Homo sapiens: one gene and its partners. The protein of the gene in region 2 purifies or fractionates together with the protein of the main gene of each other region. This does not show direct contact. Each region holds a gene or a part of one and is shown on either strand. Other genes may lie near its edges.

Region 1 (3,614 bases), on a different chromosome or scaffold from region 2:
GTGGAGCCCCAAGATGGAATCAGTGCCCTTATGAGGAGATGAAGCCACCAGAGCTCCCTTTCTCTTTCTTGTGAGGATATAGCAGGAAGGCAGCTGTGACCTAAGATGAGAGCCCTCACCAAGAACCCAGCCATGCCAGCTCCCTGACCTCAGACTTCCAGCCTCTAGACCTAGGAGAAGCAAATGTTGTTGTTTAAGGGGCCAGGTCTCTGTTACAGTAGCCTGAACTAAGACAGGAGGGCAGGGATCTTCCCAAGGTCACAGATGGGGGTGGTGCAAGATCGGGGTGGAGTGGGGTATACGGCCAGAGTGGTACTGGGCTACCTCCAGGCCTAACAGGATGTAAAAGAGGATATGAAGCATAAACAGGAGCCCTTAGGGATAGCAGAGATGAGAGAGTTGTGGGCCACAGTGAGCTAGACCACCAGAGAGTAACAGAGACAATGTGGGCGAATCAATAATGATGTTAACAATGAGCTATTAGAATAATGAATGAAAATTACTGGGCCTTTTAATGCTTTCCTGACAAGAACTTAAAATGTAACACTCAGTAGAATTTCCCCTAAACCTCATAACACTTCCAAGATATTAGCAGAGACTGGAGTTACCACCACAGTGTCTGAGTGGTCTGTGAGGTGACTCACAGCAAATCAAGTCCACAGCAAGCAATGCTGTGTCATTCTGACAGCCCTGCATCACGCAGCCACCCAGCAGGGCCTGGAGCCTTCCCAGGCCTCAGGCTCTGACCTTGACCTTCTGCTTGTTTCTTAATCCTTCTTTTGTCTAGTTGCCAGATGATGACAGTTTGTGATACTCAGCCCCAACATATGGAGTGAGAGGTATGCTTTGAGATCCTCCGGGAAAGTGTCTTATTTCTGCACAGCCACACACTTAGTGATCAGGGTGCAGTCTCCACAAGATTTAAATCCCCTTCCTCAATTTAGAAATCCCCTTCCTGCCTCCAGCACCTCTCTTCCCACATCTCAGCTTACACTGAATCCTGCAGCACTCTTCCAGCCCCATGGATCCAAGCATTAGCCATTAGCCCCTTGGTAGAGTCAGTAGAACAGAAACCAATTTTTGTGACCTTGGTGAAGTTATTTAACTTCTCTAAGCCTCTGTTTACCTATGTACAAAATAGAAATGCAAATCAACAAGGCATTAAATAAGGTAATTACTTAAATGGGATTAAATACATTAACAGCTGTAATACCTAGCACGTAGTAGGTACTTAGCCAATGATGTTGATGACAAGGCCAAAGCTGGGTTAACGTGGGCAATTTCAGCCCTGTGGTGGGAATCAGGAAACTTTCAACCACTCCTTCCTGGGCCATGGGGGTGAGGAGTCTGGGTTGGGGTGCAATAGGCCAGGGAGGAAAATGTCCCGATAGTTAAAGGGCAAAGACCTCCAATCATACCAGACAAAGTTCGAAGGAATACCCATTTGGCCCTAGGCAAGAGCTTGTTTCCAAGAATTTGTAGCAAAGGCAATTAATCACAAGATCCTGAAAGTACGCAAGTTCAAAGAGCATATTTTGAATGAGAATATTAACTGGCAGAGCTGTTTAGAAGAATCTTCTTATCTAAGTCATTGATATATGGATAGAGTGGGACAGAGTAACCAGGCGGATGGACAGACAGACAGACCCAGGCTGAGGTTATTCTCAGACCCTAGAAAGGAAACCCAGGCTGTCTCAAGGGTCACCAGCCCTGATTGAGTACCGCCTGTTCAGAGCCACGTGTCTCGTGTTGTGTGTGGTCTCTCAACAAGACAAGGTAATGCTTCCAACTGCACGCCTGCCAGGGCTGGCACTTTCACAGGAAGATGCGGTCAGCTGCGGGACACGCAGCCGAGGCTCTCCAGGAAGGGTTGATTCAGAATCATGAGGTGAGAGCCCTCATAATACAGGCAGATGGGGATGGAAGGCCTCACCTGTCCTGCCCTTGCTCACCTTCCAGGGGAATTTCCCATCCTAGCCTTTGCTCGGTGGGGACCATTTAGTGGGCAGCCCACAGCCGGGCTTCCTTCACGAGGTTGGGTCCAGAAGATTCTGAGGCCACACTTTGAGTTTCATGTTTTCCCACAGGAGCCAAGTAGCCAAAAATGTCTCTATTAAGACAGGCAGCCTCTTCATAACCACTGCAGATGGGTTTTTTATGTTTCTTTCTTCACTCAAGAGTTGGTAGCATCCTAGGGCTGTGTTCAGGCAAGTGAGGGAGCCCCGGAGCAGGAGTGACCCCTTCACCTGGCTCTGCCCCCATGTTTCCTTCTCGTTCAATCTCCTTTATGCCTTTTCTTCCACTCTCTCTCACCTGCCTCTTCTCCTCTGCACGTAATTAGGATCAAGTCTCTCTCAACTTAAAATAAAAATCGTAAAAACAAACCTTGAGGTGGTCAGACTTCGGTTTCTCTGCCTCTTCTCTCCCTCCACCCCTCTTCCCTCCCTCCCATCCTTCTCTTCTTCCTTCCGCAAATATCTGTTGATGACCTACTGTGTGCCGCGCACTATTCTAGGCTCTGAGGAGGCAGCAGAGGGAACCAAGCTAAAACCCCAGCCCTCATGGAGCCGACCTTCTCCTGGTGGGGGGACACAGACAGTAAGCAAGCAGATACGTGGATTAGACAGCGTCTTACATGCAACAGAGGAGAACAGAAGCAGAATCAGGGATGGAGCACAACAAAGGAGGGCTGGGGCTTGTTTCTGTAGCTCAGACACAGGTGGCATTTGAAGAAACCTGAATGAAGAAACAATTTCCCAGTGTTTCCCAGAAAGAGCCAGGCCCAAGAAAAGACACTGATGGGAGGGGTGTGTGAGTCGTGGGGAGCCTAGAGAGAGTGGAGTTCAAAGGCCCTGGGGCAGAGGAAGCCCCGGCAGGTTGGAGGAAGTGAGTGTGCCTGGAAGGGAGTGAGCCAGCGGGGGCGAGACCTTAGATCCTGGAGTGGGGCCTGTGATCGTGCACAGATTCTCCTTCTTGGTATCCTATAGAGTCACTGGGTTTTGAGCAGAGGTGTACCACGGTCTGACTTTTGGTTTAAACGTTTGCTCTGTCTTGTCATGTAGCACTGCGTCAATATTGGTTGAAGTCATGATTCTCACATGTATTTACTGAGCACTTACCTCGTGGATGTGAGATGGCAGAGTGGAGGGTCCCTGCCCTGTTGGACTCTACAGTCAACTCCAACCCCGCCTGGCCTGCCCCTACTTTTGCCACAGTATTTATCTCCTCCCCTCACCCTCCGCCCCCACCCCACTGCACGCAATCCTGGCTCCACATAGATCCTGCTTTCCTTCAGCTTGCCCCAGCTGTTGAATGTGGGCTCTGAAACTAGCTTGCCTGGGTTCAAAATCTGGCTCTGCTGCTTACTAGCTGTGTGACCTTGGGAAAGTTACTTCCCTCTCTGAGCCTCAGTTGCCTCGTATTTACAATGAAGATGGCAATAGAAGCTTCCTTTCAGGCTCTAGAAAGCATGAAATGAAGTAGCACGTAGAGCTTGGAACAGTGTGTGGCACCCTACAGGCCTCAGTTATGTTCGGTATTATTGTTAAGTCGCACTATGCCCTCAGGGGTCCTGTTATTGTCCACATTTTGCAGGTGAGGCAGCTGAGGCCCAA
Region 2 (4,337 bases):
CTTCCTTTCCTTTTTTTTTGAGACAGGGTCTCGCTCTGTCACCCAGGCTGGAGTGCAATGGCAGGATCTCAGCTCACTGCAGCCTCTGTCTCTCGGGTTCAAGCGATTCTCCTGCCTAAGCCTCCCGAGTAGCTGGGATTTCAGAGGCACACCACCACGCCCGGCTAATTTTTGTATATACATATTTTTAGTAGAGACAGGGTTTTACCATGTTGGCCAGGCTGGTCTCAAACTCCTGACCTCAAGTGATCCGCCTGCCTTGGCCTCACAAAGTGCTGGGATTACAGGCATGAGCCACTGCGCCCAGCCTCTGGTATTCTTTTGAAACTTTGACCTCTACCACCTTGTTGCCAGACTGGTTTAGGTATCATCTGATTAGGTGAAGATTACAGAGGTCTTCCCCGTGCCTGTGGCACCACTGGCACAAATGGTCACTAGCTGGAACTGATTTAGGACGGCACTGGCAGGGAAAACACATGCCAACCACCATCTGCCCCTTCATATCCTGAATGGGCAGGTGAGACTCTCTTTCACTTGGCCAGCCAACATACATCATCAACGTACATGTGCCCATTCATTTCAGGAACAGCTTTGTCTCTTTGAGGAAGAGAAGCTGAAAAAGACAAGCCTTTTGTTTCTCCCTCACTCCAGCATCATCTTGGCACTGGTAATATATCCAAGATATATTGGTGTTAGCCAGGCTCACATTTACCCCTTTGATTGGGTTAATTTTTTGAAGTTCCAACTTCTGTTGTTTCAAGTGTTCAACTTCTGTGCAGAGCTTATGAATATGATTTTTCGCCACTGAGTTCATTTCTTCCACAATGTAGGTATCCAAATTTTTTGTAACTTACAAAGTCAAATCCTTTGGATTTCCCACTAGGCTGTGTCATCACATAGACACTTTAGCATTGTACCAAATAAATGAAAAAATTTTTTCAGGTTGTCATCATTCATATCTTCCCCAGAGCTTTAACTTTGTGCTAGGTGCCTTGTTAAGTACAGGGATACAACACAGTTCAAGATTAAATGTCCCTGCCCTCATAAAGCCGCCCGGCAGGAAAAACAACTAATTAAGCTATTGTCAAGTTATTTACAATGAAGACAAAAGCACAATATGCTTTTGGATTTGTTTGATTTTATTACTCTTTAAGTTTGACATATGAAAATACCATACTTAAAACAGTTCATGTAGGGTACCTGAAACAAAGGCACTAATACAGTACTAGAAAGGTGGTGACGGATTTAAGAACAATTGTGCCAATTTCTAATCTGTTTTATAGTAAAGTTATAGAATTGGAGGAAACTGCTCCTGTACAACTTTGGAGGAGGGTAGGAGGAGCAGGGCGTGAGAATGCCTTTCCAGAAGCTTAGGAGTACGCCCAGTCGCTGCGTGGCTTCCCGCATACTCAGCCCTGCGCCCGCGTTGGCGTGGCCTGGGCGCCCCCAACGTGACTCCGCCCAGGGCGCTCCGTTCTGCCAGCTGGAAACTACAGTTCCCAGAAGGCCACGCGAGCCCGGGAGGGACGCGGCGGCGGGGGCTGCAGGAAAGGCGCGAGCAGAGGCGGCGGCGGGTGTACTGTAGGTGGTCGGTCCGGCAGCAGCCCGGCCCCCGGACGCAGGACGTGGCCCCAGGCAGCCCTCGCAGCTCAGTGCTCTAGCCGGGGCAAGCCCGCGTCTCCGCCTGCTGGACGGGCCCAGGCGAGATGTAGGGCTCTGGGCGCGGAGGCCGCCGGTGGGGCGGCTGATCGCGGAGGATCGCGGAGGGCGCGCCGAGGATGGAGAGAGCGATGGAGCAACTCAACCGCCTGACGCGCTCGCTGCGCCGCGCGCGCACCGTGGAGTTGCCCGAGGGTGAGCCGGGTCGCGGGGCCAGGCTGGCCGCGGGGCTGGGGGCGGCCAGTGGGGCAGGAGCTCCGGCCGCGTCAAGGTCGGGTGGAAAAACTAACTGAAAGCTGAGAAAACGCCCACTTTTACTTTCCAGAGCTGAGAGGCGGCCCCGGGCCCCGAACTCCCCTGGCCCGACGCTCCCACCCCGGCAGGTGGGAGTTTTCGGGAGGAAACTGGGTTGGTGGGGGTTCCGCTGCTGGGAGGAGCGAGACAAAGGTCTCGCAACGTCTGTCGATTAGGGGTCTTGGCAAAGGGGCAGGAATACCAGCCGGAGGCCCGAGACCCGGAGTCAGAAAACATCATAATTGCGGGTCATTTAACAGTAGCTGGGGATAGAGATGATCCAAAGATACTGTTTACTTTAAGCTGCATCGGGGGGCCAGGCGGGCTTTTATTTTTGTTATTTTTTAAAATGTGGGGCACTGCCTTGTTTTGATAACAGGCAAACAAAGGGTTGTCAAACATCAAACAGGTACTCTTAAAGTACTGTATGGGTAAACACAATATATTTTTCTTTAATATGCATGCCTGCCTTCATTCTTCATTTATTCATCAGACTAGTATTGAGTGGGCTAGCTGGTAACTAGGACGCATCTGCAAAGAGGAATAAGGCATGGTCCCTGAGGATCAGGACTTTTAGTTCAGCGTGCCAGGGTTCCCTCAGGACAGGTAAAACTCTGCTAATAACAAGGAGAGAAAATAAGCAGTTTTGTTTGCAGCGTCAGGAATTCAGACATTTTAGTGGTGATGGGAGACAGCAGTGCTGCTTCTAAGAAGCTTTTGGCTCTTTATGCCCAAGTGAGAGAAGGGTTGGGAGGAGGTTGTAGCTGGTGAATAGCTTTTTTCTTAATTGTAGTAGTTTATCTTACTTTTTCAAAACTCTCTTTGAATTGCTGCTGGGTGGTTTGTAGGATAGGGAAGGAGACCTTGGCAGACGGTCATGAAAGAAATGTGGGATTGGGTACTTTGGCGATAATTTTCTTTCCTTTCTTTTATAGAGATGAGGTCTCACTATGTTCCCCAGGCTGGTCTTGAACTCCTGGGCTCAAGTGATCCGCACCCTGCTCCCCCCAAAGTGTTGGGATTACAGATGTGAGCCACCGCGCCTGGCCTGGGGATAATCTTCTTGAAAAAATGGTCTCTAGTCTCTATTTAGAATTCAGATTTTGGTAACTAGATTCTAGCTTCAACTTTTTCTATATTTTCTTTCCAACTTCCACCTTTGAATCCATTTCTTAAGTGCTACTCTTACTTATTTTTCGTAGTCGAATTATTGGTATAGCTTTATGAAGACTACATGTATAATTTATATTGTCTAGTTTGAATCCCGATATTTTTTACATAAATGTGATTTAGAAGACTTTGATAATGTTACTTGGTTTTAAAAGTAATATAGTTTCATTGTAGAAAATTTGGAAAATAAAGAAAAATAGAAAAAAATATGTCATTTCACCATCCAGTTATAAACAGTGTTACCATTGTTATTTCTTTTTCCCTCCCTAACAAGTTAAAATCATGTTGCATATAGTCTTTTATTTTGTGTTTAGAAAACATCCTTTTTTTTTTTTTTTTTTGAGACGGAGTCTCACTCTGTCGCCCAGGCTGGAGTGCAGTGGCGCCATCTCGACTCACTGCAAGCTCTGCCTCCGGGGTTCACGCTATTCTCCTGCCTCAGCCTTCCCAGTAGTTGGGACTACAGGCCCCTGCCACCAGGCCCGGCTAATTTTTTGTATTTTTAGTAGAGACGGGGTTTCACCGTGTTAGCTAGGATGGTCTCGATCGCCTGACCTCGTGATCTGCCCGCCTCGGCCTCCCAAAGTGCTGGGGGATTACAGGCGTGAGCCACCGTGCCCCGCCCCAAATGTTTTTTTTTTTTTGTATTCTTCAATAGGCTTAATGACTTCAGAATTTCATAGGATGCATGTAACAAATGTTGAATCTAAATACTGTTTTTAAACTGATTTTATGAGAAACAGCTTTGTATTTAAGACATAGTCTGCCTCTAAATACTTCCTTAGGGTTAATTCTTACAAGAAGAATATCTACAATACATTTCTAAGGCTCAACATATCAGTTTCTCAACTTACTCCTTGGAAAGTTCCACCAGCAGTCCGAGAGTGCCCAGAAACTAGAGTATTATTAGTAAAAGTAAAACTTTTCCACATAGGCAAAAATGGCATCGTTTGCATTTGCTTTTCTTTGATTATAATGTTCATTTTGTTCCTTGAATTTAATTTATCTTTGTCTCTAAGCTCTGATGAGTCTTTGAATTCTCTGAGCTTGGCTCTTTAAAGTATATCATACATATAGGAATATATATATATATATGTAAATATATATGTAAATATATATGTAAATAAATATATATATGTAAATATATATATAACATTCCTACTGATACAAATCCACATTTGTGCTTACATTTTAAGAGCTGAATGGAAACTCTG
Region 3 (4,359 bases), on a different chromosome or scaffold from region 2:
TAAACTGTCATGGAGGTTACAAGAACCCAGACCCCAACGCCATCACATTTCACTCAGCCCTTATGAATGAAGCATCCCCTGCCCCTCACCATGGCACCACCCATACACCCAGCACCCTCAAACTCTTTAGCCCAGTGTCTTCGCAGGCCCTAAAAGTCTGAGCTCCAAGCCTCCAGGGTCCCTCTCCTTTTCCTTCTCCTATTCCCCTCCGAAGTTCTCATCCCTAGTTAAGCCCTGATGGAGCCAGGAGTTTGGGGGCCCCTGAGGCCCCTGGGCCACAGCTCAACTGGCCAGGCCACATTCCAGGTGGATTAACCCCTCCAATGACAAGGGTGAGAAGCTACTAGAGGACTCCCCCATCCCCATGTTCCCCAGACTTGGCTTAGACTGGGAACAGGGCTCTCTGCCTTAGCCCTCCTTGTCTTTGCTTCTCACCTACCAATGGGAAACACAGGCAGGTAGGGCAGTGGGGGTCCCCACAGAGGGATGCTCAGCTCCTGATCCTCACCAAGGAATGATGCTGCATGTGAGCCAATGAGAGTTGTCCTTGGCCTTCCTCTTATTTTGCCTCAGAGAAGGGACTTGGGAGTTGAGTGAAGAGAGGAAGGGGGTAGAGATTCCTCCCATTTCTGAGCCTTGGTTCTGTCGTGGCTGGGAAGAGAAGGGGAGGGTCTTAAACCCAGGGTAGGAGAATGGACTAAGGAATTGAAGGCAGTGCAGAGTAAAAGGAAGTCCTAAACTGAGGCCCCAGGTGCCTTGGTTCTTTGGGGGACTCATGGAAAGTAGAGAACATTCTTCCTCTACTAAGATGCCATCTCAAATGGTGGGGCAGCGGGGATGACAGACTAGGGGAGAGGGGCTCTTACAAAGCTGCTTCTCTTAGAGCTGAGGTGGAGTTGAGGGGAGGGCATGGATGAAGGGGGCTGCCGGATGGAGGGGGGTGTGTTTCCCTGTCGCCCTGCCCGCTCCAGAGCCTGGAACAAAGCTGCTCTTGTCGGCCACTCTCCACCCGCTGCCCCCCTCCCCTCTGTATAAACACGACCACCTTTTTCCATGACCCCATCTCCAGCCTGGGCAGAGAACCCAGGCATCCTCTGCTCTAGCCTGGGCCCCCAGCCTGCTCCCCAGGAGGCAGCAGTGGGCCAGGCTTCCTTGGCATTGTGCCATCCCTGGGGGAGTCCAGACCCTTGAGTCTCCACCTCTCATCCCCAGGTGCCCTCCCTCCACCCTACTAGCCCCAGGGAGGGGCAGTGCCCAGGAGGCAGGCAGGCAATGCCAGTGGAATGTGTGTGGGCATCAGAGGGCATGGACAGGGTGGGGCAGAGGGGGGAACTGGAGGTGCCAGTTAGGTGGCTTTCTGAGCCAGGGGTGGGGGTGTGCCGGGGTGTGGGGGGGCGTGCCCCATGCTGCCTACTAGGCTGTAGGCCACAGTGCGTGTGTGTGTGTGTGTGTGTGTGTGTGTGTGTGTGTGTGTGTGTGTATGTCTGTCTATATGGGATACCCAAGCTCCAGGCTCCCTGCACACACTACCCCCACTCCCCTGTCTTCTCTCTACTTGCCTCAAGGATATGAGATGCTGGCTATGGTCCTTGACCCCAACTCAGCATCTGACCCTAAGGGCAGAAGCCTCAGACTTGAGGATTGGGATTCCAGCTGCCCAGGACCAGAGCCCTAAAGCGGGACAGTCATCTCAGTTTCTTGCCCTGAAGACCTCCTACTCAGGCTCCCCTGCCCCCACCACCACTAACAACCAAGCATCTTCTTACCCGCTGGCCGCCTGCAGAGACTGGCTTCTACATACTGGGTCAGGTTGAGGGAACTGGGCCGTAGCTGCTAAAGACAGAGAGGCAGCGTCAGTGGAACTCTGGGACCAGCACTCCTGGGTCCCTGTCCCGGTCTTCCTGCTCTTTCTTTGTTCCATTTGGGCTTCCCTCAAGAATACTCCAGAGGTGCCCCCCACCTTGGCTGGAGGGAGCCAAGGCTCGCACCTGGGCTGGGAACGTGTGGGAGGGAATCCAGCGCTTCAAGGAAAGTTCACAGATCCCTATCCTATGCACCAGTCCTTCGGAACTCCTGGACGCGGAGGGCCAGGCTCACTTGCCTCTGGACGTTTTCCTTGCCTTCTGATGTCCAAGCTGTCCCATTCCACTGGGGAGGGAGGAACTTGGACCAGCATGGAACATCAAATCTACCCCTCAGAGCCCGGGGGTAAGGGGGTGGTAGTCTTTCCCCGCGAGAGGAAACCCTGTCTTCTCTCACATTCCCAGCACAAAAATATAAGGAGGAATGCCCCCTGGCTGAAGACTTCCCCAAATGCTGTCCTCTGCTATGCACCAAAATGAAGGGCAGATGACCCAGCCCATCCTCAGCCTGTTAAAATCTTCCCCATTCCCTTCCCACAGCAGGACTGGCCTGGGTCGGGGCAAGAAGCCCCCCTCAAGCCCGGCGGCCAGCCTGGCCAGCCTCGGGAGGGCATTCGCCCGTGCAGCTCCTCCGCGCCCCCTCCCCCAGCCGCCTCGCCGGAGGACCCAGGCGACGGGGCGGGCGAGCCTGCTTCCCCGCCTGACTCACCTGGAGTGGGAGGGGGAAGGGAGGCGGCGGAGCCCCGAGGTCCCGGCGTCGGGCAGTCTCTTGGATGGAGCGTCGCAATGTCCGGGGCTCGCCGTACTGGGGGGCTCCTGGGGGGGCACGGCTCTAGGCTGGGACTGTCCCGGGGCCTCTCGGAGCCCGCCCGCCCACGTGACCGCCCCAAAATATCCGACACATTTTCTCCCAAACCGCACACTGACTCTGCAGGCGGGGACACGGAAAATATTTTCTTTCTTTTTCTCCCTCCCCACCCCCCCCCCAACCTCCCTCCCTGCCCAACTCCCTCCTCCCCCTCCCGCCCTCGCTCCTCCCTCCCCTGCCTGCCCCTGCCCGGCTCCCTCCTCTGTGCCCTGGGGCTGGGGGGCGGAGGGATGGGTGGGCGGGAGGGGGACTGGGCGGGGCGGCCCGGGACGCCTGGGTCTCTGCCCTTCCCATTTGCTAGGCTTCCGTGACTCCATCCTCTGGGAGGCCGGGCACGGCTGGCAGAGGAGGTCAGTGTCCTGGCCCCGTGATGCCAACCTTTTCTCTCTGGCACTTTTCTCCTTTCTGCCTTTTGGGGGGACTAGTTGAGTTGTCTGTGGCCAGGCTGTGACTCTTGCGAGGCCAGTCTCTGGCGCCTCCCCAGGGTAGGCAATGGGGCGGTACCCACTCCCTCCCAGTGCTGGATTGGCCGGGCAGGAGTATGCCAGATCTAGAATAGATGCTCCTGCCCTTACTCTTTGCTCAGCCTTCACCTGCAGATCCAAGTAGCCTCTCCCTTCCCCTAGCCCACCTCAGTCCTTTGGTCCCAGGAGCAAACTGGTTGACTAGTGGCTGTTGCTGGGGGTGCTGAGGCCAGGGCTCACAGACATCTTCCCTGTCATCTTGCCTGGAGTAAGCTCCAGGAGTTAGGGCGCCTGGGTCCCTGGCTGCCAGTTGTCCCCCACCTTTAGGCCTGGATTTGGAAGGGGAGAGGCTGGAGAGGAGGGCAGGAGGAACTGTGGCTGGGAGTGGGAGGAGCCTTGGGCTGGGTGTGAGAGAGAAAGCCCAGGCAGAGGGTGTGTGTCTGCCCTAGCCAGCACCGGCCTGCCTGCCTGCCTGCCTGGTAGATGTGCCATGAATGCTGTTGACTCCGGGTGTGTGTGTGTGTGCGTGTGTGTGTGTGTGTGTCTGTGCAAGCGCGTGCGCATGCCAGTGCCGAGAGTGAGTGTCTGTGTCTGATGGGGGCATTATCTGCTTCAACATAGACAGACTCTCAACCCTAGAGTGAGAGAACCCAGTGGTTTCACTCTGCATTCTACTGAGGACAGAGGGAGAGAAAAGAATGGGTCTGCAGTCCAAGCTCTGTGCACGGATCCCAAACACTCCCATGGGGACTGGAGTTGGGAGGGAGAAAGAGGAGAAGGGGAGAGTCTGAGCTAGGCTGATAGGCTGGACAGACATACCCAAAGTACCTTCCCCAGCAATGCTCGCAGGGTGACCAGGACCTGGGACACAGACTCCTGGGTCACGTCACATTTTCCATACTGGAATTACTTGGCTTTGTCCTTGCTCCCCCCTGGGGGCCAGGTGTCCTCCCTCCTGGGAAAGGCTGCTTTTGGTAGCCAAAGTCAGGTGAAGGAGATGGGGGAAAGAAGAGGCATGCTGTGGTTACCTCAGGGAATGGGAGATGGCAATGGGGGTGCAGACAAGCCCTCTCTTTCACTCCAGGGATAGGAAGAGCTAGGAATAGATACTCCAGGGTCCCGTCCCCAGGTGGCCTAGCTGCTGTTGACTTTGCTTGGTTACCCT

The links.
Region 1: the proteins of HACE1 (region 2) and RARB purify together in Homo sapiens (affinity purification with western blotting, with the first as the bait; one study listed by BioGRID). This does not show direct contact.
Region 3: the proteins of HACE1 (region 2) and RARG purify together in Homo sapiens (affinity purification with western blotting; one study listed by BioGRID). This does not show direct contact.

What each region holds. Positions count from the first base shown.
Region 1 is NC_000003.12:25,581,716-25,585,329, forward strand, and holds part of RARB (retinoic acid receptor beta), read left to right. Parts: intron 1-3,614. UniProt on the Homo sapiens protein: Receptor for retinoic acid. Retinoic acid receptors bind as heterodimers to their target response elements in response to their ligands, all-trans or 9-cis retinoic acid, and regulate gene expression in various biological processes.
Region 2 is NC_000006.12:104,857,084-104,861,420, reverse strand, and holds the start of HACE1 (E3 ubiquitin-protein ligase HACE1), read left to right. Parts: upstream 1-1,501; 5' UTR 1,502-1,778; coding exon 1,779-1,854; intron 1,855-1,874; exon of another isoform or gene 1,875-2,042; intron 2,043-4,337. UniProt on the Homo sapiens protein: E3 ubiquitin-protein ligase involved in Golgi membrane fusion and regulation of small GTPases. Acts as a regulator of Golgi membrane dynamics during the cell cycle: recruited to Golgi membrane by Rab proteins and regulates postmitotic Golgi membrane fusion.
Region 3 is NC_000012.12:53,229,403-53,233,761, forward strand, and holds the start of RARG (retinoic acid receptor gamma), read right to left. Parts: upstream 2,808-4,359; 5' UTR 2,572-2,807; intron 1,834-2,571; 5' UTR 1,767-1,833; intron 1-1,766.